Homo sapiens: one gene and its partners. The main gene of each other region encodes a partner of the protein of the gene in region 2 in a complex. Each region holds a gene or a part of one and is shown on either strand. Other genes may lie near its edges. The genes, in order: ZBP1, CASP8 and MEFV.

The links.
Region 1: CASP8 (region 2) and ZBP1 share a complex: the UniProt entries of both Homo sapiens proteins name them as parts of the AIM2 PANoptosome complex.
Region 3: CASP8 (region 2) and MEFV share a complex: the UniProt entries of both Homo sapiens proteins name them as parts of the AIM2 PANoptosome complex.

Annotation. Positions count from the first base shown.
Region 1 is NC_000020.11:57,616,521-57,625,750, forward strand, and holds the start of ZBP1 (Z-DNA-binding protein 1), read right to left. Parts: upstream 3,907-9,230; 5' UTR 3,776-3,906; coding exon 3,742-3,775; intron 1-3,741.
Region 2 is NC_000002.12:201,283,114-201,288,913, reverse strand, and holds the end of CASP8 (caspase-8 isoform 2 precursor), read right to left. Parts: intron 4,099-5,800; coding exon 3,597-4,098; intron 2,456-3,596; coding exon 2,320-2,455; 3' UTR 1,205-2,319; downstream 1-1,204. Other genes in the region: FLACC1 (flagellum-associated coiled-coil domain-containing protein 1), read left to right, coding at 133-259. UniProt on the Homo sapiens protein: Thiol protease that plays a key role in programmed cell death by acting as a molecular switch for apoptosis, necroptosis and pyroptosis, and is required to prevent tissue damage during embryonic development and adulthood.
Region 3 is NC_000016.10:3,252,883-3,262,479, forward strand, and holds the start of MEFV (pyrin), read right to left. Parts: upstream 3,752-9,597; 5' UTR 3,706-3,751; coding exon 3,429-3,705; intron 1,909-3,428; coding exon 1,276-1,908; intron 1-1,275. UniProt on the Homo sapiens protein: Involved in the regulation of innate immunity and the inflammatory response in response to IFNG/IFN-gamma.

The DNA of each region.
Region 1 (9,230 bases), on a different chromosome or scaffold from region 2:
CAGTTGAGCCCAGGCTGGAGGCTCCAGGAGGCACGTAGGCCCCTTTTTGAGAGGGGTCCAGGGCAGAGGAAAGGGCAAGGACCCCAGCAGATGCCCCCTAAGAGCAGTAGGGCAGCTGCATCTGCCCAGAGGGAGGCATGCAGGCTGATCAGAAACGGCCTTGGCTGCGCAGCCTGGTGGCCAGGGGAGGTGCCACCTCGCCTGTGCCCTCCCCGGGTGTGGGTTCCAGAGGGCAGTGGGGTTCCTCAGCTCTCAGGTGTCCTCAGGGCAGAGGGGAGTAGAGGGCAGAAGGACGGAGCCAGAGGGAGGCAGGGGGACCTGGGAGCGCAAAGGCAAGTCCTGCCTGGGACGCCTGCCTGGGTTTACCTGATGCCCATCGCCATCCTCCCCGGGAGTGCCCTCCTCTCAGCTCACCATCCATCCATGGCGCCACTATCCATCCAAGCCAGAGACCGACCAGACATCAGAAACAGACCTTTCCCCCAGTGCCCAGTCGTGGAGCCCTGGAAATGCCATTCCTGGATTCTCTGGAATCCCCCCACTCCTCTCTTTTCTGCCAGCACCACCCCCTTCCTCTTCACCATCTCCTAGGTACAGTGATAGGCTCCCCGTTGGCCCGCCAGCTCCAGTCAGGTACCCTCCAGATCTGGCTCTGCCAACCACCCAGCTTGGCCTGCACCTGCCCCCAACTTCCCTCCAAGTGCTGGCCTGTCTGTGCTCCCTTCAGCCCCACTCTCCCCAGCCCCTTTGTGCACACTGTTCCTGCTGCCAGGAGCACCCTTCCCTCACGCCCCAACCTGTATGATGTCTACTCAACCTCCAGGCCTCCTCAGATGCCACTTCCTAGGGAAAGCCTGTCTCTGTGTCCCAGAGTGGCTGGGACGCTGCTTGTGTGTGGGTCCCCTGCAGAACTTCCCCTAGTGTCCCCTGCTGTGCTTGCATGGCTCACTGTTGTACCTTCAGCATCTAGCACAGTGCTGGGCACACAGTAGGTGCTCAGGAAATGGCAGTTGAATGTATGAGTGACTGAGTGAATGAATGAATGAATGAATGGGGCCAGGAGTGGTGGCTCACACTTGTAATCCTAGCACATCAGAAGGCTGAGATGGGAGGACCCCTAGAGGCCAGGAGTTCTAGACCAGCCTGGGCAACATAGTGAGACCCCCATCTCTACAAAAAAAGAGAAAAATCAGGTAGGTACGATGGCATATGCCTGTAGTCCCAGCTGCTTAAGAGGCTAAAAGTGGGAGGATCGCTTGAATCTAGGAGGTAGCAGTTGCAGTGAGCTATGAATGCACCACTGCACTCCAGCCTGGACAAGACCCCATCTCTGGAAAAAAAAAAAAAAAGGACTGAATGAGTGAGTGTCTGTCTCTAGGGACAGACGTTTACCCAATAGACCCTGGGCAGGGCCCGGGTAGCTTCTCCTTGGCCAGTTGGCAATGTGCTGCTGTTTCCTGGCCTGAGTTTAATGAGGACTAAGCAGGACCCCAAGAGGTTCAAGGAGGAATTCTCCAAATGGCCCCTGCTCCTCCTGAGGCAGCTCTTAAAAATCAAAACCATTAGCTCACACAATGATTAAAAGATCAAAGCCAGCTGCTCTGCCCAGAGATGAGGCTGGGGCAGACGCAGGTTACGGGCAGCACCTGGCAGCCAGCAGCCTGGGAGAGCCACTGTGGGCGGGGGCCCCACCTGTCACCAGGAAGCTTCTGCTTCAAGGAACCTGAGGGCAGTGCATGGGAGAGCCCTTCTTGGAAAGACCTGAGTTCCCCTTCCAGGACAGTGACTCAGTCCTTTGTCATCTGGGCTTTCTTTCCTGTTCAGAGGATTCTCCAGGTTTGCCCAGGGTTCCTTGGTCACAGCACTTGTAGGGGAGGGAAGAATCAGTTTGTGCCTCACCCTGATGGTTACAACGCTGACCGGCTTGCCGTGTGCAGGTGAAGACCAATTAGAAGACCTGGGAATTCCCACTCCTGCGCCCACCAAACTCCCCCACCGGCAGCCAGCAGCACCTCCATGCACCTGACTTCACACCTGGCTTCACCTTGTCTCGCAGAGTTTTTTGTTTTTTGGTTTTGAGATGGAATTTCGTTCTTGTTGCCTGGTCTGCGGCTGCAGTGGTGTGATCTCGGCTCACTGCAACCTCCACCTCCTGGGTTCAAGCAATTCTCTTGCCTCAGTCTCTCAAGTAGCTGAGATTACAGGCACGCACCACTACACCCGGCTGATTTTTGTATTTTTAGTAGAGACAGGGTTTCCCTTTTTGGCCAGGCTGGTGTCAAACTCCTGACCTTGGGTGATCCCCGCAACTCAGCCTCCCAAAGTGCTGGGATTGCAGGCGTGAGCCACTGCGCCTGGCCGCAGTTTTGATTCTGGAAGGCTGACCTTAGGGAGCCACTGCCTCGGCTCCACACACCCCAGAGGAGATGGGGGTCAGAGGTGTGGATGCAGGACAAGCACTGGCCCTGGGCTGGCCTCGACTGCTGAGTCCCAGGCTACTGTGTCTGAAAATGGGAAATTGTAAAATGGAGCAGGTGTAGGCAACAATTTGGTCACAAAAGGAAAATCAACTGGGGAGGAAGACAAGAAAAGCCAGCGAGGGCTGAGTCCGGAACCTGCGTCAGCACCCGTGAGTCCCCGAAGAGGAAGCTCCACAGGACCTCCGCGGTCAGCCCGGCTCCTGGGCCACACCCTGACATTAGCCCTCCCGGGGCACACTCTGTGTTGGTTTTTTAAAATTCTGATGGCTGATTTCCTGGGTTTGAGCTCCTAGCCCTGCCAACTACTAGCTGTGTGACCTCCCCTCCGGCTTCAGGTTCCTCTTCTGTGAAATGGAGACAGTAATAACTACTTCAAAGATTGTGGTGAGGATTAAAAACAAAACAAACACATCCCCCAAACCGCAAAACCACACTTCACCTACAGTCCACAGCGCTTAGTGGAGACCCTAGAGAACAGCAATTACTCGATACACTATTGGCTTTCATTGCAACTCTTCCAGGAATAAAATGAATGAAATGTTAGTTGAGGAAAGGATGCAACAAGGGGGAACAAAGGCACACATGTATCTCATCAAAGCAAACCGCTTTGTTCTCGATATGACTGTGACATGGGTGTTCAGACGCTAACACCAGCGTTCGCCAGCTGTGTTACCCTGAGAGTGTCATTTCACCTCTCAGGGCCTCAGTTATCTATAAAATGGGAATGACATGGCACTTGTCCCTGCAGGCCATCAGGAAATGCTTGGAAAGCATGTTTCGAGGTGCCTGGGGCACAGTCAGCTGTCAAAGGGGGATGGCTATGCTGTCCCTTTCTATTTTTTTTTTTTTTTTCTGAGATGGAATCTCACTCTGTCACCCAGTCTGGAGTGCAATGGCGACATCTCAGCTCACTACAACTTCCACCTCCCGGGTTCAAGCGATTCTCCAGCCTCAGCATCCCGAGTAGCTGGGATCACAGGCATGCGCCACCATGCCCGGTTAATTTTTGTAATTTTAGTAGAGATGGGGTTTCGCCATGTTGGCCAGGCTAGTGTCAAACTCCTGAGCTTAAACAGTCCACCTACCTCGCCTCCCAAAGTGCTGGGATTACAGGCGTGAGCCACCACGCCCAGCTGGTCTACTATTCTTTAGGATACTGCTATTGTCATCATGATCTGGACCAAGCGAAACAGGAGGAAAGAGAAGTAGAAATCTCACCCCGGGAGCTACCGCTGGTCCTTGGAAGGAAGAAGTACTGTACCTTCTCTGCCCGGGTCAGCAGGAGCCTGGGCCATGCTGACAGCAGCTGCAAGGAGTCGGAGAGACTTGGCAGGTGTGCAGGCTTCTGCACTGTGGCCCTGAGAGGGTGGGCTAGGTCGAGGCTGGGGCTTCTGAAGTGGCCGAGCCTGGTGCTTCTTGCAGCTCTGAACCCACAAGGGGAGGGATGCCAGCTTCCACTGGGCAGGTGTCAGCTGCTTACAGCCCGGAAATAGATGCCTAGCCAGGCCGGCCAGATTCGGTTTCAGGAGAAAAAGAAAATGAAACTTCTCTGTTCGTCTTTTGAAAGAAAAAAAAAGTGGAAGCCAGGTGGATGAGCAAGACAGAGTTGGGGACCTGACTTGATGTTGACAGGGAGGAGCTGTAAACTTGGCAAGACCAGAGCGTCCTCCGAAGAGGCCTTTGAGACAGAGGACTTCCCTCACCTTCCCCGTTCCAGGCACAGCCCACCTGGACCTCTACATTTTTATTTTCTGAATCAGCATCAGAGAACTGAAGAAAATAAAAATAAAAAAAAGAGCATGCACCACGTGGAGGGGGATGCCAGGGCGTGGCATCACTCTGATGATGTGAGGGGCTGGGGCTGGTTATCTGGTTTCTGTGTTTTTGTTTGTTTTTGAGACAGGGTTTCTGTCATCCAGGCTGGAGTGCAGTGGCGTGATCACGGCTCACGGCAGCCTCGACCTTCCGGACTCCAGCGATCCTCCCACCTCTCAGCCTCCCTAGTAGCTGGGACCACAGGCCTAGACCACCATGCCCGGCTAATTTTTGTATTTTCTGTAGAGATGGGGTTTCATCGTGTTGCCCAGGCTGGTCTCAAACTCCTGGGCTCAAGCGATCTGCCTGCCTTGGCCTCCCACAGTGCTGGGATTCCAGCCGCAAGCCCCCACGCCCGGCCCCGCTGGTTCCTGTAGTACTTCCTCCTCGGGGACTCACAGGTGCTACAGAGGCACCGTCCCCAGCTCTCAGTGGCTTTTCTTGTCTTCTTCCAGTTTGTTTCCCTTGCCCACACTAGGGGCAGAACATTTAGGTGCGTGAAGGCCCTGAGATTGTTCTTGTGTGTATCCATGTGAGCCTCTTTAATGAACACCTATTATGCGTTTTCCAATCTCAAGTGCTCCTCCAACCCATCTACAGGGTAGGGGCCAGTTCTGTCTTCTTCTCAGGGGGGAAACTGAGGCTAGAAAGGCAAGATCACTTGTCCAAGGCCACACAGAGTCCATGACAGAGCTTGTCCTGTCCATTCCCCAATTGTGTTTCCTGATCTATAACACCCAGAAGTCACTGGTGAATCACCCTTAGTGCACAGATGGCGTGGAGTTCCCCGCCTCATCATAAAACTTGCTTATTAATTCCAGAGTCAGATGCCTGGGGTCAGCAGCCGAGTGGTTCGGAATGCAAGCCTGGGTCAGCATGCTTGGGTCCAAACCTGGCTCCGCCATTTACCGGCTGTGTGACCTCGGACAAATTATTTAACCCCTCTGTGCCTCAGTTTCCCCATGTGTAAAAGGACTTAATCAAAGGACCTAGCGCATGGGGTCGAGGTGAGGACCTAAGGGGCTGATACAGCCCAGCTGTCGGGCTAGAGCCCCAGAGCCATCCGTAGTCACGGGCACCGTGGTCACCTCACAGGAATGCTTCTGGGAGAGGACCCGTTGCTTACATAATTCTCAAAAGGGCCAGTGACCTCAGAAAAACTCAGAGCCACTGTTCTCTTCCAGATCACAGAAGGAGGAACTGAGGCCCACAGAGGTGAATGCTGTGTACAAGGCCCCCCAGCTTTTGGCAGCCAAGGGGGTTGAGAGCTCAGCCCTGGAAGTCCCTGGACTTGGGGTCTGTGTCTCATCTGCAGAGGGCTGGGAGGGCTAGAGACGTCTGTGCTCCTTGCAGACCCCATTTATGCATAAGGAGCAGCTTAGCGGCAAATACAAATGGAAAGGGGGTCCGGAGGTTTATCCTGAAGCTATCTGTCTTTGCAGAGCGAGCACCTGGAGCCCAGGTCTTCCGCCCTGCCTGCATGTTAAGTGTTTGAAGCAAAAAAAAAGTCTCAATGCCCAGGCCGGCCCAGACTAGTCAACTCCAACCTCTGCGGCTGGGGCCCGAGGGTGAGATTTTTTATGCTCCTGGGTGACTTTTCCTGCTTCCAGGTGGAGAACCAGTAAGTCTGGGGCAAGTCAATAACAGCAAACTGCAGGATGCTTTTATTCTCCTTTTATGTAAAAGCGAAAACTGCAGGTATCACCCTATGAAATAACAATAGTGCTCTTTAAATGGGGGGGTAGGTGGGGTGCTGAGGGAGATGATGAAGGTGCCCTCCGGAAGGGGCTCCGGCTGAGCCCTGCAAGGCTGAGTCCCTTGGGTGTCTGGGGTGCCACGCCCGAACTGGCCACCAGGTGATGCCGCTCACCAACCTGGGCTTGGGCGCACCTTGGCTTCAAGTTCCCTCTGATCTGCAGGGAGGAGCTCCTACCCCAACCCATGGTTGGACTCCAGACTTGATGAATCACAGCTCCAAGACGTGCCCACCCCTCCCACTGCCTTGTCCTGCATCATCCTTTATTCTTCCTGTCTCTTCAGTCACTCATCGTGGTTTCTTCACTCATCTTTCCTGGAAGGAGTCAGATTCCAGCTGTTTCTCTGTGAAGCCTCCAGGCAGTTCTTTGTGCTCTTCCGGCCTGGCCTCCCAGTGTTGGTCTTGACACAGCCCACCACTCCCCCGTGGGGAAACTCTCTCTCCCCCCATCTCCAGGGCCCATGCTAGCTTCTCCCCTTCCTTCCCTGGCCTCTGCAGCTCAGGCCTTGACCCCAGGTCCCTGGTGGGCTTGCAGGTCAGGTTGAGGGATGTTAGCTTGGTCTTGGGTGCCAGCCTTACTTCTAGGAAGATGGCTTCTGCTGCAGGGAGGAGGCTGGTGCCCCTCACGGCTGGTCTCCATCCAGACTGTGCTTGGATGACCCCTTTCTGTCCCCGTGGCCACATCCTGAAGGCACATGGAGCCCCTCTGGGCCTGAGCCATTTTTAGGAGTCTGTAGCAGGGACCACCATGCCAGTGGAGACCAAGCGCCTCGGGAAGTTCCCTGGACAAGGATTCTGTCTTGTCTCTTCTCCAGGGCAGGTTCTCCTTCCCAGCTGTGTGGCGCTACCTCTCTGAGCCGCGGTTTCTTTAACTATAAAGCAGAGATACTAAGAAAAAGCATTTTTGACACTTAGTATGTGCTCACAACATTTGCATAAGTTAGAAAACATGATGCATCTCCACAGTATCTCTTTAGACAGCAAACAAACAAAAGAGAGCAATAGACAAAAAGAAGAAAACATTTCACGTGGGTAGGTTCCACCTTTCTTTGCATTCCATGGCACATCTGGAGATGAAGCCAGGAATCTGCTATGTGCTTGTCACCCACTGAGTGGGAGTCTTACTTTTAAATACTTAGATTGCCTTTATTTCTCTTCTCTATTTAAGAGCTGTTTAAGTTGAGTTTGACCCTAAGGATTATCTTTAAGCCTAAATACCAGTGGCTAAAACAATAGAGTTGTGTCTTTTTCTTGAAAGAGTTGTAGGCATTCCAGGTTTAGTGTGGTGACCTGGGGTCCTTCTACATTGTCGGTCTGCCATTTGTGGCCTTCATTCTCAAGTTTGCCTTACATTTTAGAATGGCTGCTAAGCTCCAGCCATTACATCTGCATTCCTTCCAGCAGGGAGTAGGAAAGGGAACAAGGGCAGATATCTCCCTTTAAGCACGCATCTTACAAGTTGCACACACATTCCACTAATACCCCATTGGTCAGTCTTGTGGCTCTTATCTGTAAGGGGAGGCCTGGAAAGATGGTCTGTATTGTGGGTCACCATGTGCTCAGCTAAAATTGGGGTTCTATGACTTTAAAATGGGGGACAGTAGATATTGGCAGAGACCTAGCTATCTCTGCCATTTCAAGGTTCCCTGGTGTCCCCAAGAAAGGAGCAAAGATACCTCCTCTGTGCCTTCAGGTGTGTCCATTCACGGGGTTCATTTATTCAGCAGTTGCTGTGCCTCCTTACTCTGCCTGGAAAGGGCCTCAAAGGCCACAAGACTTCCAAGATGGCACCACTGCCTGCTGGAGTCCTCATCTCCTTTTGCCTTGGAAGGCGCACTCCCTGTTCATGGCTTGTGTTTTTCTGGAAACTATTAGAGCTCTCCGCCCAAACCAGATGATAATTACATGTTACTGATCTTGAGTCTTTAAATTTTTCTCTCTCTCTTTTAAAAGAGAGATATTTTTACTGCACATTGTGTTGACAAAACCCAAGTCTCCCTTCTACCAGGCAGCCTGGATTTTATTTTCAGATTTCCTCTGTGAATTCATGCAGGGGGAGGAGGTGGAAAGGTACTGAATGTGAATAATAACATGTCTTTGGTCAGGGACAAGGGTCAGAGAACCAGGGGTGGCTGAAGAGGGGAATGGAGATTGCCCAAGGTCACAAAGTCATCCTCCTGGGGTGGAATGAAGACTGAGTAAAACTGGTGTGTCCAGGAAAGCAGGTTTTCATTGCAGTCCCTAGAGGAGTCTGCCCTGGCCCTGTTCTCTGCTCTTCCAGGCAGAGCTGTTGATGGGGCCTCCATTGTTTATCTGTATCCATTGGAGTTGAAGAGACCTGGGGTTCTGGTCTTGGCACCCAGCTTTTTAACTCTGTGCCTTGAGCAAGTTACTGCTCTGTCTGAGGCTCAGTTTATGTCTTTGTAAAGGGGGTCATAGAAGTACTTACCTTGTGGGATTGTTGCACAGGTTAAATGGGATTGTGTACCTGTAGGTCCTAGTAGAGCACTGGGCACATAGTATGTGCTCAATAAACAGGAGCTAGTCATGTTATCACCATGTGATGCTCAGCTGTCCCTCTCTCTGGTAATAAAGCAATCCTATTCACTCACCTGATCATTTGCCAAATACTTTCTCATGCCTTCCTTTTATCGGGCCACATGCTGGGCCCTGCAGGGCATGGGAGAAACGTCTCTGTCTTCGTCTGTTTTCTGCTGCTATAACAGAACATCACAGCCTAGGTAATTTATAAACAATAGGATTTTATTTGGCTCATGCTTCTGGAGGCTGGGAAGTCCAAGAGCATGACACCAGCCTCTGGCAAGGGACTTCATGATGTATTATCTCATGGTGGAAGGCAGAAGGGCATACAAGCATATGAGACAGAGAGGAAAGGAGCTGAACTCCCAAGATAACCAAACTACAATGGCAAAAAATAGCATTTGTCCATTCATGAGGGCAGAGCCCTCCTGACCTAATCACTTCTTAAAGGTCTTACCTTTTTAATACCATCACAATGGCAATTAAATTTCCACATGAGTTTTGCAAGGGACATTCTAACAATAGCAGTTCCATTTGCTGATTCCTGCCTCCATTTCCCACTCTGGCTGCAGAAGAGGCCACACTGCCTGGTCCTGGGATGAATGGGGTGACTCAGACCAAGTCCTAGGGCCCCAGCA
Region 2 (5,800 bases):
CACTGCAAGTAATGAGTGAGAGACTGCTGTGGTGAAGGAACGAAGGCACATTTCTCTCCCTGCACTCCAAATATCCTATACCCTTTCTAGCTTTTGAGTTGACATTGATACATCTTTCCTTTCTTTTTACAGGCAAAAGATAATTTCTAAGAATGAAGAAATTTGTGAAGGATGTTCTGGGAGATTGGCCTCTATTACTGTTTCTAAGGATGATTCTGACACTGTGCAAGATGGTAGCAAGAAAGGACAAGAATCATAAACAAAAAGTTGCTCTGCATTGTTGAAGATGGTTGGCACACCATTTCTGTAGGCCCAGGAAACTCCTGGGAGGGTTTTCTTGAGAAAATGCATATAATGAGTTTAGTTCTTGGGTTGCTCTGACTCTCTGAATGTCTGAAAATGTTTGAATTCGCATCTGAATTTCACAGCTTATCACGGACTCTTCACTGAAAAATGATGCTCTCCATACTGGGAGCTGAGCTTTCTCTGAGTTTTGTACTATTTTTCTTCTACCTTGACGTATTTCGTTAGAAAGAAACTGATTTGAAGGCCTTCTTCATATTGAACTTTTACTATATTTGGGAGGTGTACCTTTGTCCCCTGGGGCATTTAGGTAGCAAAAAAAGATGATGTGTTGATTTTACTCTAAAATATTTTTCTCTCACACCCATGCCCCCTACTTCCCTACCTCTCAATCATGTTCCCTAACCTATGACTTAGGAAGGGTTTCTGATGATTCTTACCACCTCCTCTGGACCATCACCAGAATTCAGACACCCACAGTGCAGGCAACATAAATAAGTGAAGTGGGCTAGACATAAGGAAAACAATTGCCCAAGCACAGTGATAAGTGGCAACCAACAGCAGCCTCAGTAGAGGGGCTTGGGCAGGGCTGGGGCACAGCGGATGGGGAAGAGTGACCCACAGAGCACTGTCCCATCTGAAGAAGGTGCTTCTCAGACCTTTGCCATGCAAAAGCATGAGGTCAATATTGTCAGATAGTATGATTTTTTAAAAGAAGTTATTCTGGTTTTTATGTGATATCTCCTAATTTTTAAACATTGACAACAAATTTTAAAAATACAACTGTGTGTGCCGATCATGGGAGACTCAAGTAGAACATGTCTGTAGTCCAGATGTTTTCCACCTGTGAGATGTCATTGGCAGAAACCAAAACCAAACACAAAAAATCTCCAAGGAGCAATAAGATCAAATTATATTTTATTCTATTAAAAAATGTTTTTGAAAAAAGATACTTAAATTTTAAAGATAACTTAATTCCTAATGATTTAAAATAATCCAAGCAGAGATGAAAGAGCAAATGCAAATGCATAAAAAGACCCCAGAGCATTGTTAGCAAAAAGCAAATATAGTTAGCCAAGCATATATATATCATAAAAGCAATAAGAAGGCATAAAGCAAGTTTGGGGAGAGCTTATTTAAAACTTGTAAAAATCATTTGAATTTTTAAAAGATTTCAAACAAATTTTGTTTTATTAAAAAAAAAATTTTTTTTGAGACGGGGTCTTGTTCTGTCACCCAAGCTTGAGTGCAGCGGTGTGAACATGGCTCACTGCAGCCTTGACCTCTTGGGTTCAAGCAATCCTCCCACCTCAACCTCCCAAAGTGCTGGGATTATAGACATGAGCCACCATACGTGGCTACTTTCTAATTTTTTTAATGTGGTAGTGTGGAATTTAGCTTTGAAAGAGAATTAAAGTTAATAGAATATTAACAGTGGGCTTATAGTTGATAGATAACAATCTGAATCATAAGCCCTCTATATTCATAGCTGGATTTTGTACGTGTCTGGTATTTATTGCCACCAGCTAAAAACATTCCCAAAGCCTTAAGCATAAGAGAAAGGAGACAGTGTTATTGTTGTTAATATCCTATTTAACTTTAGCTCTTATAAAAAAGTGCAAAACAATTAATAAAGTAGAAAATCTAGAAAATTAGTAAATAAACATAGTGTTATATCTAAATAGTACCATCGGCCAGGCGCGGTGGCTCACGCCTGTAATCCCAGCACTTTGGGAGGCCGAGGTGGGTGGATCACGAGGTCAGGAGATCAAGACCACCCTGGCTAACACAGTGAAACCCTGTCTCTACTAAAAATATTTTTAAAAAATTAGCCAGGTGTGGTGGCGGGCCCCTGTAGTCCCAGCTACTCGGGAGGCTGAGGCAGGAGAATGGCCTGAACCCGGGAGGCGGAGCTTGCGGTGAGCCGAGATCACGCCACTGCACTCCAGCCTGGGCGACAGAGCGAGATTCTGTCTCAAAAAAACAAAACAAAACAAAACAAACAAAATAGCACCATCAATCAGAAGGGAAGACAAGTTTTTTTCTTAGTGTGAAAGTAGGCTGAGGCATCTGTTTCCCCATGTTTTTCTTGTCATCCTTGTTGCTTACTTCATAGTTCACTTCAGTCAGGATGGTGAGAATATCATCGCCTCTGAAATACATCACATAATATTGTGACTGTCTGTGGGGGAAAGCAACTGATGAACTGTCTCCTCTGCTGTGCTCAGAGATAGTTCTGTAGTTCTTTCTCTCAAAATATCAGTCATTTGAAACAATAAGGTGCGAAACCAAGACCTACCCCAGCTTTCCTGGTAAATGGGTTGTCTCAGAGCTTAATAACTTACTTTTGGTTTATTCAGGAACTCTTTTGACCATCAGAAACCTCGGTGTCAGTATTAGAGTTGGTTTCTTTCTCTCCTGACCTGTGTGTCTCTCACTCTTCTCCACGTTACTTGGCTCCCCATTGCTTCAATGCCCCCCAATACTCTCTGCCTCGAATTGACATCGCATCTGCGGATTCATCTTTGATGCAATTAAACTTAAGGCAAGTGAAAGTATAACGTCTCCTGCAGCTACTCCCACCTTCTTCTCACCAGGATCTCTTAGCATTTTTGTTAGGCAACCTCTTCTTCTACCTTGGTAGCTAGCCGCGGAAACCTTGCAGGATTCATGATCTAAGTTACGAAATCTAAGTTAGATTCATGATCTAAGTTACGGGAAATTCTCACTCTTCATATACTCAAAACATGAAATACAGGGCTAGAAGGAACCTGCTATTTATCTCCCATAATGCACCAAGAGGTTTTGAGGATGGTTTGCTATTATAGAACTTTTGACAGAGTTGGAGGATGTTTAAACATTGAATTGGGTTACTGCCTTCTTGGAAGATTTCCAAAACTAGTTGAATTGGCTCAGTCATGTTTTGGCCTAAAGACAGAGAGCTGGAGTATATGACTTTCCTATCCTTTCCTGCTCTGTGATACCCTGATTGTCCTTTGAGGTGCTGAATAAAGGAATAAAGCATCTCAGCTTTTCCATCTATAAACTAAGGATGTTAACACTTGCCACTCTCCCACTTTGTAACTGACCTGGGAAATGCAGCTATGTGATCTACAGCTAGACATTTAGAGTTGAACGGAAACCACTCCCCTTGGACAGTTCTCTGACCTGTTAATGTGATCTAAATCACATAGCACTTTCTAATAGGCTCTGAATATGAGTAGATAGTAGTGTGATGGAGTAGGGGGGGAAGGTAGTGTAACAGTGAGGAGGGCTGAGTAGGCAAAACTTACCGAGGACATCGCTCTCTCAGGCTCTGGCAAAGTGACTGGATGTACCAGGTTCCCTCTGCAGGGTTTCGGTAGGAAACACAGTTATTCACAGTGGCCATCCCCAGCAGAAAGTCAGCCTCATCCGGGATATATCTCGTTTGAGGTGATGATAAATCCATTTCTAAATAGGGTTGCTCCTCTGAATCAGTCTCAACAGGTATACCTTTCTGGTAGTTATCCCCCTGACAAGCCTGAATAAAAAACACTTTGGGTTTTCCAGCAAGGGAAGGGCACTTCAAACCAGTGAACTGAGATGTCAGCTCATAGATGGGGGCCTCCTGTCCATCAGTGCCATAGATGATGCCCTTGTCTCCATGGGAGAGGATACAGCAGATGAAGCAGTCCATGTTACTGTGGTCCATGAGTTGGTAGATTTTCAAAATCTCATAGATTTGCTCTACTGTGCAGTCATCGTGGGGCTTGATCTCAAAATGAAGCTCTTCAAAGGTCGTGGTCAAAGCCCCTGAAAAGTGAAATTTGAACAGTCACGTTATACCACAGTAATTCACAGACCACAGCTGGAGAGCACAGTGGGCATAACATTGATAGATAAGAATTTGACCCCTCTCCCTCTCCCTCTCCCCGTCTCCCTCTCCCTCTCCCTCTCCCCGTCTCCCTCTCCCTCTCATGCCGAGCCAAAGCTGGACGGTACTGCTGCCATCTCGGCTCACTGCAACCTCCCTGCCTGATTCTCCTGCCTCAGCCTGCCGAGTGCCTGCGATTGCAGGCGCGCGCCGCCACGCCTGACTGGTTTTCGTTTTTTTTTTGGTGGAGATGGGGTTTCGCTGTGTTGGCCGGGCTGGTCTCCAGCTCCTAACCGCGAGTGATCCGCCAGCCTCGGCCTCCCGAGGTGCCGGGATTGCAGATGGAGTCTCGTTCACTCAGTGCTCAATGGTGCCCAGGCTGGAGTGCAGTGGCGTGATCTCGGCTTGCTACAACCACCTCCCAGCCGCCTGCCTTGGCCTCCCAAAGAGCCGAGATTGCAGCCTCTGCCCGGCCGCCACGCCGTCTGGGAAGTGAGGAGCGTCTCTGCTTGGCCACCCATCGTCTGGGATATGAGGAGCCCCTCTGCCTGGCTGCCCAGTGTGGAAAGTGAGGAGCGTCTCTGCCCGGCCGCCATCCCATCTAGGAAGCGAGAAGCGCCTCTTCCCCGCCGCCATCCCATCTAGGAAGTGAGGAGCGTCTCTGCCCGGCCGCCCATCGTCTGAGATGTGGGGAGCACCTCTGCCCCACCGCCCTGTCTGGGATGTGAGGAGCGCCTCTGCTGGGCCGCAACCCTGTCTGGGAGGTGAGGAGTGTCTCTGCCCGGCCGCTCCGTCTGAGAAGTGAGGAAACCCTCTGCCTGGCAACCGCCCCGTCTGAGAAGTGAGGAGCCCCTCCGTCTGGCAACCACCCCGTCTGGGAAGTGAGGAGCGTCTCCGCCCGGCAGCCACCCCGTCCGGGAGGGAGGTGGGGGGGGTCAGCCCCCCGCCCGGCCAGCCGCCCCGTCCGGGAGGTGAGGGGCTCCTCTGCCCGGCCGCCCCTACTGGGAAGTGAGGAGCCCCTCTGCCCGGCCAGCCGCCCCGTCCGGGAGGGAGGCGGGGGGGGGTGGTCGGCCATCCGCCCCGTCCGGGAGGTGAGGGGCGCCTCTGCCCGGCCGCCCCTACTGGGAAGTGAGGACCCCTCTGCCCGGCCAGCCGCCCCGTCCGGGAGGGAGGTGGGGGGGTCAGCCCCCCGCCCGGCCAGCCGCCCCGTCCGGGAGGTGAGGGGCTCCTCTGCCCGGCCGCCCCTACTGGGAAGTGAGGAGCCCCTCTGCCCGGCCAGTCGCCCCGTCCAGGAGGGAGGTGGGGGGGTCAACCCCCCGCCCGGCCAGCCGCCCAGTCCGGGAGGGAGGTGGGGGGTCAGCCCCCCGCCTGGCCAGCCGCCCCGTCCGGGAGGTGAGGGGCGCCTCTGCCCGGCCGCCCCTACTGGGAAGTGAGGAGCCCCTCTGCCCGGCCAGTCGCCCCGTCCAGGAGGGAGGTGGGGGTTCAACCCCCCGCCCGGCCAGCCGCCCAGTCCGGGAGGGAGGTGGGGGGTCAGCCCCCCGCCTGGCCAGCCGCCCCGTCCAGGAGGTGAGGGGCGCCTCTGCCCGGCCGCCCCTACTGGGAAGTGAGGAGCCCCTCTGCCCGGCCAGCCGCCCCGCCCAG
Region 3 (9,597 bases), on a different chromosome or scaffold from region 2:
GAGGCTGCAGTAAACTGTGCTCACACTACTGCACTCCAGCATGGGAGACAGACTGAGACTCTGTCTCAAAAAAAAAAAAAAAAAAAAAAAAGGAAAGTGTGTTTCTGAATGCTGCCCCCACCACGAGCATGGAATTGTCACCTGGATAGCCTCGGTACCCTCTAAACTGGTGGCATTTTTCTTTTACAGTTTTTTTTTAGTCTCTTTACCTATAGGGACAGCTGCTTAAAAAAATCCAGATGGCCTGGAGCCTCCTGATCCCTTGCCAAAAACCAGAGGAAGTTAAGATCAGAGCAAAACCAGTGCAAACTGGAAGAGGTGACTTCCAGTTACCTTAAGATCATTTACACATTGTTATAAGGCTAAAGGTCCCTCCCCTAAAAGAAGATGGCCAGGGTTTTGTGTCCATGCGATGTAGGAAGAAGCATGCTGGGGACAGCGCCTGCACATATGGAACCCTGCCCTGGGCCTGCTTACCTATCTCCCTTCCCCTCCCTGGACTCTAAAATCGCCCTGCCTCCCATCCCTGGCAAGCAGACGCCTGCAGAGGTGAGCTCCCCTTCTCCATTCTTTGGCCACTGATAACACCTGATTGCCTTTTTCAATCGGACATTCTTTCTTTCTTTTTTTTTCCCCCCAAAATGTTTAAGAGACAGGGTCTTGCTCTGTTGCCCAGGCCGGAGTGCAGTGGCACATCCTCAGCTCACTGCAGCCTGGAACTCCCTGGCTCAAGCAATCCTCCTGCCTCAGCTTCCTGAGTGGCTAGAATTACAGGCGTGTGCCACCATACCCAGCTAATTTTTTTTTTAGTTTTGTAGAAGTGGAGTCTGGCTACGTTGCTCAGGCTGGTGTGCAGTGGCATGATCTCAGCTCACTGTAGCCTGGAACTCCGTCTGCTCAAGTGAACCCGAGCAGCTGGGACTACAGGCGCGTGCCACTATTGTATTTTGTAGAGATGGGGTCTCACTGTGTTGCCTAGGCTAGTATGGAACTCCTGGGGTCAAGAGATCCTCCCGTGCAGGCCTCTCAAAGCTCTGGGATTACAGGCGAGAGCTACCACGCCCTGCCCAACCTTTGGGTTTTTATTTTTTTAATTTCGTTTATAGAGATGGCGGGGGTCTCACTACATTCACCAGGCTGGTCTCAAAGTCTTGGCCTCCAGCAATCCTCCCGCCCTGGCCTCCCAAAGCGCTGGGATTACAGGCATGAGCTATCGTGCCCGGCCAGCCATTCTTTCTCTGCAGCCGATATAAAGTAGGAAAGAACACAATTTACCGGTGACCGAATGTTCTGGATTTCCAGGGCCTTCCTTCAGGTCCGCAGATGCCCCTCCATCCGGAGTGGGCCTTGCCCGGGGTTCTGTTGCCGAGTCCAGATTCGCAGCTGTCTTTTCCTCTAGAGTCAGGAGAATTTCTGGATTTGCGGGCGCCTTCTCCCCTGTAGAAATGGTGACCTCAAGGCTTCTAGGTCGCATCTTTCCCGAGGGCAGGTACACTTCGAAGGGCCTGCACTCCTTCTGCCCCGGGGCGCCCCCCGCCAGCCCCTGCAGCCTCCCCGCGGAGCTGGCGTTTCTGCGCAGCCGGACCTCGGCCTGGCCCCCCTCTAGCGCCCTGCAGGGGCCGGGGCTTCTCCCGCCCGGCAGGGCCGGGCTCCGGGTCCGAGGCTTGCCCTGCGCGTCCAGGCCCTCCGAGGCCTTCTCTCTGCGTTTGCTCAGGGGCTTCCTCGACAGCCCCCTCCCGGCCTCGGGCTGGCTGCACCGCAGGCTGGCAGCTCCGCCCCCGTACGGCCGAGGGCCGTTCCCCTCGTTCCCCTCGGGGTGGTCTGGAGTCTTCAGGCTCCTGGGCTTGTTCTCCCCCAGGGAGCTGGACGCTGCGGAATCATCTGTGCCGTTTTCTTGTGTGGAATATTCTGGAAGGACAACCAGATGCAAAATGATGAAGCTGTCCCACGTTTAGGGCCCAAGATTCAGGGCAGAGGAGAGAGAATCCCCTTGGATATTAAAGTTTAGAAATTGAGGAAAACAACGGGCCGGGCGCGGTGGCTCATGCCTGTATTCCCGGCACTCTGGGAGGCCGAGGCGGGAGGATCACCTGAGATCAGGAGTTCAAGACCAACAGGGTGAAACCCCGTCTCTACTAAAAATACAAAAATAAGCTGAGCGTGGTGGCGCATGCCTGTAATCCCAGCTTCTCCAGAGGCCAAGGTGGGAGGATCATTTGAGGTCAGGAGTTCGAGACCAGCCTGGCCAACATGGCAAAACCCCGTTCCTACTAAAAATAAGAAACTCAGCCAGACGCGGTGGTGCGCACCTGTAGTCCCAGCTACTCGGGAGGCTGAGGCATGAGAATCGCTTGAGCCCGGGATGTGGAGGTTGCAGTGAGCTGAGATCGGGCCACTGCACTCCAGCCTGAGTGACAGAGCAAGACTCCATCTCAAAAACAAAAGTTCAGGACTTCCTAGACTAGACAATGGCAGTCAATTACCATTCAGTAAGAACATGCTTGATGTTGCTATGTATTTCTCTCTCTCTTATTTTATTTTTTGAGACAGGATCTTGCTCTGTTGCCCTGATGTGATCTCAGCTCACTGCAACCTCTGCCTCCCAGGCTCAAGCAATCCTCTCACCTCAGCCTGTTTTCTGTTTTTTCAATAGCTGAAAATACAGGTGTGTGCTACCACGCCTGGCTCATTTTTTTGTATTTTTGGTAGAGACAGGGTTTCACCATGTTGCCCAAGCTGGTCTCAAACTCCTGAGCTCTAGCAATCCACCCACCTTAGCCTCCCAAAGTGCTGAGATTATTTATAAGTGTGAGCCACCATGCCTAGCCTATATTTCTCAAATAGTACTTTTCAAACGTTTTAAGCAGGACAACTGTTTCAAATAAGATCTTACACAGGTCAGCAAAACCCAGATTATACGCTTTAAAAATAAAAATAAGCCGGGCACGGTGGCCTATGTCTGAAATCCCAGCACTTTGGGAGGCTGAGGCGGGAGGATCACTTGAGGTCAGGAGTTCGAGACCAGCCTGGCCAACATGGTGAACAGCACTGAGAAGATTCTATACCAACCCCGTTCATATGATTGCATAGCAATCCCTTTTTGCTAACCTAGAGATGTTTGTCTGACATGAGTATTAATCATAAATGTAGTGAAGAAGTCTCAAAGAACAGGTGTTCCAGCTCCTGCCTTTCGTGACCCTGACCTGCTTCTTAAAAAACCCATTAGGAGCCTGAAGGAAGTTTACTAACCCAGTTCCAAAGGCCAGAGTGAAGAAAGGGACGTTCCTGAACTAAAGTCATCTGGATTTTGGTAGACCTGAGACTCCCAATCCCCAGGTCAGAGTGAGCTGCTCTGAGCTCCTGGTCCCCTTTCCCACAAAGCAGCCAGCACTCAGCACTGGATGAGGAGGAGGCCTGGGCCCGCTTACCCTGAATGGCTGCCCTGTGGAGCTCCTCGGCCAGCAGGCGCTGGTTGATGGCCCGCAGGACCTGCAGGGTGAGCTGCACGGCGTACTCTTCCCCATAGTAGGTGACCAGCAGAGTGGCCATCTTCACCGGCCTGGCTCTCTGGATCTGGCTCCGGGGGATCCTGGAGTGCTCCTTCTGCACACTGGTGTTCTGCAGCTTGAACTTGAACTTCTCGAAGTCATAGGGCACCAGCTCCTCCAGGGTGGACAGCAGATGGTCACTAGGGGTCTTAGCCATGGTGCTGAGCAGGAGAGGCTCGAGCCAGCTGTCTGGCTTCTGGTAGGAAAAGAAGCCTCTGTCCTTGGTGAGCAAGAAAAGGCAGGTTGTGAAATAGCGGAAAAGGCACAGGAAATGCTCTGTGTCTTGGTGGGAACTGAGACTAAGGGTAAGGGTGTGTCCATGCCGGCTGTGTTCTCTTCTTACAGGTTCAGAGGATTTTCCAGCTGGGAGGGCTCCATGCCTTGGCAGACATGTGCCCCCACACCCCTCCCAAACCCTGGACCTCGCCTCCACACTAGACCACAGACAGATGGGCAAGTCTGCAAGGGAAGGTCTGGGATTGGATTCCAGACACCCCCTCCAATCTTCCTTCCTGCCAGGATCTGGGGCTGGCAGAGCGGGTGAGTGGGAACAGAGAGGACTATGCTGAGGGCCCGCCCTGCTGGTCAACTGTTCTCCTCCAGACTCGGGGTTTCAGGGACCTTCCAGAGCCAATGGCACAGGACGGGGGAAGGGGTGGGCACTGAATACAGTCCTGTGAGCTTTGCCTTTCCTGGCCCAAGAAGGCAAGTGAGGCCAGAAGGGCACTGCCAGGAGATAACTCTTGCCATGCCATCACCCCTGTTGATCCGGTTCCAGTTGACTGGTTCTTCCAGCCACATGAAGGACTTGAAAAGCAATGCCTGGACCACCAGCCTGACTCATCTGTTCCCAGAGCTGACTCAGTCCTCGCTCCCTGGAGCCAGAATGCTCTTCCGTGCACATTCATTGAACATTCTAGACAGTGTGCCAAGATGCTGGAGCTACACGGGTGAAAAGGCACGGGTGTCCTTCAGCTCATATGTGGTGCAGGGCCCCAGAGGTGGCTTTGAAGCTAACAGAAGTTACATGTTGGGGGCAGGGCACAGTGGCTAACGCCTGTAATCCCAGCACTTTGGGAGGCCGAGGTGGGTGGATCACCTCAGGTTGGGAGTACAAGACCAGCCTGGCCAACACAGTAAAACCCCATCTCTACTAAAAATACAAAAATTAGCCAGGCATGGTGGCACGCACCTGTACTCCCAGCTACTCAGGAGGCTGAGGCAGGAGAATCACTTGAACATGGGAGGCAGATGTTGCAGTGAGCCGAGGTTGCGCCATTGTACTCCAGCTTGGGCGACAGAGCGGGACTTTGTCTCAAAAAAAATAAATAAATGAAAAATTACATGTAGGGTGAACTGACTCCTCACTTACCTACTTCTGACCGTTGCATACCCTAATTTTTTTATTTTTAGATAGGGTCTTGCTCAGTCACTCAGGCTGGAGTGCAGTAGTGGGATCTTGGCTCACTGCAACTTCTGCCTCCTGGGCTTGAGCAACCCTCCAACCTCAGCCTCCCAAGTAGCTGAGACTACAGGTGCATTCCACCACATCTGGCCAATTTTTGTATTTTTTATAGAGACAGGGTCTCACTATGTTGCGCAGGCTGGTCTTGAACTCCTGATCTCAAGCGATCCACTCGCTTTGGCCTCCCAAAGTGCTGGGATTACAGGTGTGAGCCACTGCGCCCGGCCAGAAGTTTTGTTAATAATGCAATTTACCCTTCACCAGCACTTCCTCGGCACCAGCCACCACTAGCTTTATAAACACTTCCTCCTAGAATCTCTGCAGCACCCTGCAGGGCTGCGTTTATCATCCCCCTGTGCAGCCAAGAATCTGTAGCTTAGTGACTTGCCTAGAGCCAAGATCCAAACGTCAAACCACTTCACAACATCGTCTCCTGCATGACAATAATTTGTGATTTTACTGTTAATGACTACCCATGGATGTCACATTTCCAGCTGACCACTGAGGTCCAGGATGGGTCACTTCCACAGGTCAGTCACAACATTGCGACGCCTAGCTGAACACCCAGCTCTGGGTGTGAGCTCCTCTGTGTGTGCCCAGCCTGGGATTCAAGGCTTTGATGAGTTCTGGTTGGTTGAATTTAACTTACTGTCCAGCTGGTCCACCTGTTTCCTATTTCACAGAGTATTTGGTGTTTTTGCATTGTTTTCATAGCTGACAACAAACATGCAGTTTGCTAGATCTTTCTGAGCCCAAACCCAACATCTTCCCTAAAAAAAGGGTGAATTGGGCTGGGTGTAGTGGCTCACACCTGCAATCCCAGCCCTTGGGAGGCTGAGACAGGAGGATTACTTAAGCCCAAGAGTTTGAGATTAGCCTGGGCAACATAAGGAGACCCTGCCTCTACAAAAAATAGAAAAAATATTAGCTGGGTGTGGTGGCACACACTGGTGGTCCCTGCTGCTACTCAGGAGGCTGAGGTGGGAAGATTGCTTGAGCCTAGGTTCAGGCTGCAATGAGCTGTGATTGCACCACTGCTCTCCAGCCTGGGTGACACAGCAAGACACCCTGTCTCAAAAAAAAAAAAAAAAAAAAAAAAAAAAAGTGGATGAAATGCACATTGATGGTGCAGACAGCAGATTTTTGGAATTTTTAGGCTGGGCCAGAAGAAGGGTGTTGAATGGGGTATCACTGGGGCCAGCACCCGTCCCTGACTCTGGACGGTGGCAACCCAGCACCTCCCAGGCAGTCTCCCACTACCAGATGGAGAAAGGATGAGACTGTGCAGTGACGCTGTGGGTGCTGTGTGATCCCATCTCGTCTGGTCAGAAAACTCCTCGGAGCTGATACCAAAACCCCATGACAGAATTGGGCAGGGAATGATACTTTCTGGTCTAAAGCAGGATATTTTGCAATTGCGGTGACACGTTTTGCAACAGAGGCTGCTCTGAGGCAGGACTTCTGGAAGGCAGTGTTTTGATGCCACTTTGGACTTTCTAGGGCAAGGCAGGCTCACAAAGCTTTTGTTTGGAGGGGTTCCAGTAATTTCTCACAGTGAAAATAGAATTATTGCCCTTCTAACGTCATTTAAGTGTTTAATAATCAAAGTGGAATGGTCATGGGCTGTCTTGTGTGCCCCTGCCATTGGATGTGTGACCTTATTTGGGGTGACATGGCAAATCTAAACCCAACAAAGCTGCTGCAAAGGGTCTACTCTCGGCTATTACTCCTGGGAAATGTGCGGCTCAGACACCACGACCTTCACTCCACTCCTGGTCACCAGGGGTTTCACTTTCTATGGCATTTACTTCTGCACATTTTGGGATTTAAAAAAATGAAGATTGTATTACTTTCGTAATAAGCAAAAAAGATAGTTTTAAAAAGTCTTTCAGACCAGGTGTGGTGGCGCACGCCTGTAATTTCAACACTTTGGAAGGCCGAGACAGGTGGATCACTTGAGGTCAGGAGTTCCAGACCAGCCTGGCCAACACGGCAAAACCTCGTCTCTAATGAAAATACAAAAATTAGCCAGGTGAGGTGGCCCGCGCCTGTAATCCCAGGTACTCCGGAGGCTGAGGTAGAACTGCTTGAACCTGGGAGGTGGAGGTTTCAGTGAGTCGAGATTGCATCACTGCACTCCAGGTTGGGCAACAGAGCAAGATTCCGTATTTAAAAAAAAAAAAAGTCTTTCACAATTAGCTTAACTTCTAAGGGAGTATCAGTCCCGTGCCCCTAAACCATCATGATAAAGGAGGTATATAGTATTTACTTATTTATTTACTTGATTTATTTTGAGACAGAGTCTCACTCTTATCACCTGGGCTGGAGTGCAGTGGCAAGATCATGGCCCACTGCAACCTCCGCCTCCCGGGTTCAAGCGATTCTCCTGCCTCTGCCTCCCGAGTAGCTGGCATTACAGGTGCCCGCCATTACACCCAGCTAATTTTTTGTATTTTTAGTAGAGACGGGGTTTCACCATGTTGGCCAGGCTGGTCTTGAACTCCTGACCTTGTGATTCGCCCGCCTCAGCCTCCCAAAGTTCTGGGATTACAGGCGTGCGCCACCGTGACCAGCCAACTATTTTTTCATAGATGATGAAATGTAGGCTTACAGGTAGGGTGACCAACACATTTTGTCTAGGAGCAAAACCCAATTTGCCCAGTCTTAGCACTGAAAGCCTAGTTCTGGGAACGACCACAGTCCGGGGAAATTGGGACAATTGCCCACCCTGTTTAGATGGGTTAATTGACATACTGAACACATGTCTAGCTAGGAAGAGGCACCACAGGGCCATTCATTTACTCTTGGAGCACCTGCTGTATGCCAGATGCTATTCTAGGTACTACTGATACAGAACTGAACAGAAAAAAACTTCTTGCAGTGCTCACATTCTTTTTTTTCTGATATAAATGCCCTTCAGAAGAGGCCACATTCTTTTTTTTTTTTCGAGATGGAATTTCACTCAGTCGCCCAGGCTGGAGGGCAGTAGCGCAATCTCGCCACTGCAACCTCTGCCTCCAGTGTTTGAGCGATCCTCCTGCCTCAGCGTCCCAAGTAGTTGGGATTATAGGTACCGACAACCACGCCTGGCTAATTTTTGTATTTTTAGTAGAGACGGGGTTTCACCATGTTGGCCAGGCTGGTCTTAAACTCCCGGCCTCAAGTGATTTACCCACCTCGGCCTCCCAAAGTGCTGGGATTACAGGCGTGAGCTGCTGCGCCTGGCTCAGAAGATCCCGCATTTTTTTTTTTTTGACGGAGTCTAGCTATATTGCCCAGGCTGGAGTGCAGTGGTGCTATCTCAGCTCACTGCAAGCTCCACCTCCCGGGTTCACGCCATCCTCCTGCCTCAGCCTCCCGAGTAGCTGGAACTACAGGCGCCTGCCACCACGCCCGGCTAATTTTTGTATTTTTAGTAGAGACGGGGTTTCACCGTGTTAGCCAGGATGGTCTCGATCTCCTGACCTTGTGATCTGCCCACCTCGGCCTCCCAAAGTGCTGGGATTACAGGCATGAGCCACTGCGCCCAGCCAAGAGCCCACATTCTTATAGGAAAGTGTGAATTGATATAAACAAACAAATACACAATGTATCAGGGAGTGATAAGTTGGGGGAAAAAACAGCAGAATAATAGGGTTAGTGAGTGCAGGGGATTGGTTTCATATTTTTTTATTTTTATTTATTTATTTAGAGACAGAGTCTCACTCTGTCACCCAGGCTGGAGTGCAGTGGTGCTATCTTGGCTCACTGCAACTTCTGCCTCCCGGGTTCAAGCAATTCTCCTGCCTCAGCCTCCCAAGTAGTTGGGATTACAGGCTCACACCACCATGCCAGGCTAATTTTTGTATTTTTAGTAAAGACGGGGTTTCACCATGTTGGCCAGGCCAGTCTCAAACAACTGACCTCAAGTGATCCAACCGCCTTGGCCTCCCAAAGTGCTGTGATTACAGGCATGAGCCACCGTGCCCCCTGGTTTCATATTTTAATAGGGCACTTGAAGAAGGCTTTTGTGCTTGAACAGAGACCCAAAGGAAGAGGAGTAAGCCAGGTATTCATTTTGAGGATGAGCAGTCTTTGCCTATTTACAGAGTGCAAAAGGGGTAACTTTGTGCTTAGTGTTTGAGGAAGAGTGGTGGCTGGAGCAGAGGCACGGAGGAGGAGTGGATGGAGGGGTTAGAGAGGGAGCTGGAGTCCCCTATCAAGTAGCAGGGCTCCCAGGACACAGCAAGGACTTGGCTCTTACTCTGAGATGAGGGGACACTGGAAAGTTTGAGCAGAGCAGTGACATAATTGGAGTTACGCTTTAAAAGAAACATTCTGGGCCGGGCGCGGTGGCTCACACATATAATCCAGCACTTTGGGAAGCCAAGGAAGGTGGATCACCTGAGGTCAGAAGTTCGAGATAAGCCTGGCCAACATGGTGAAAGCCCGTCTCTACTGAAAATACAAAAATTTGCTGAGTGTGGTGGTGATGTGCGCGTAGTCCCAGCTACTCTGGAGGCTGAGGTGAATCACCTGAACCTGGGAGGCGGAGGTTGCAGTGACCTGTGATCGCACCACTGTACTCTGGCCTGGGTGAAAGAG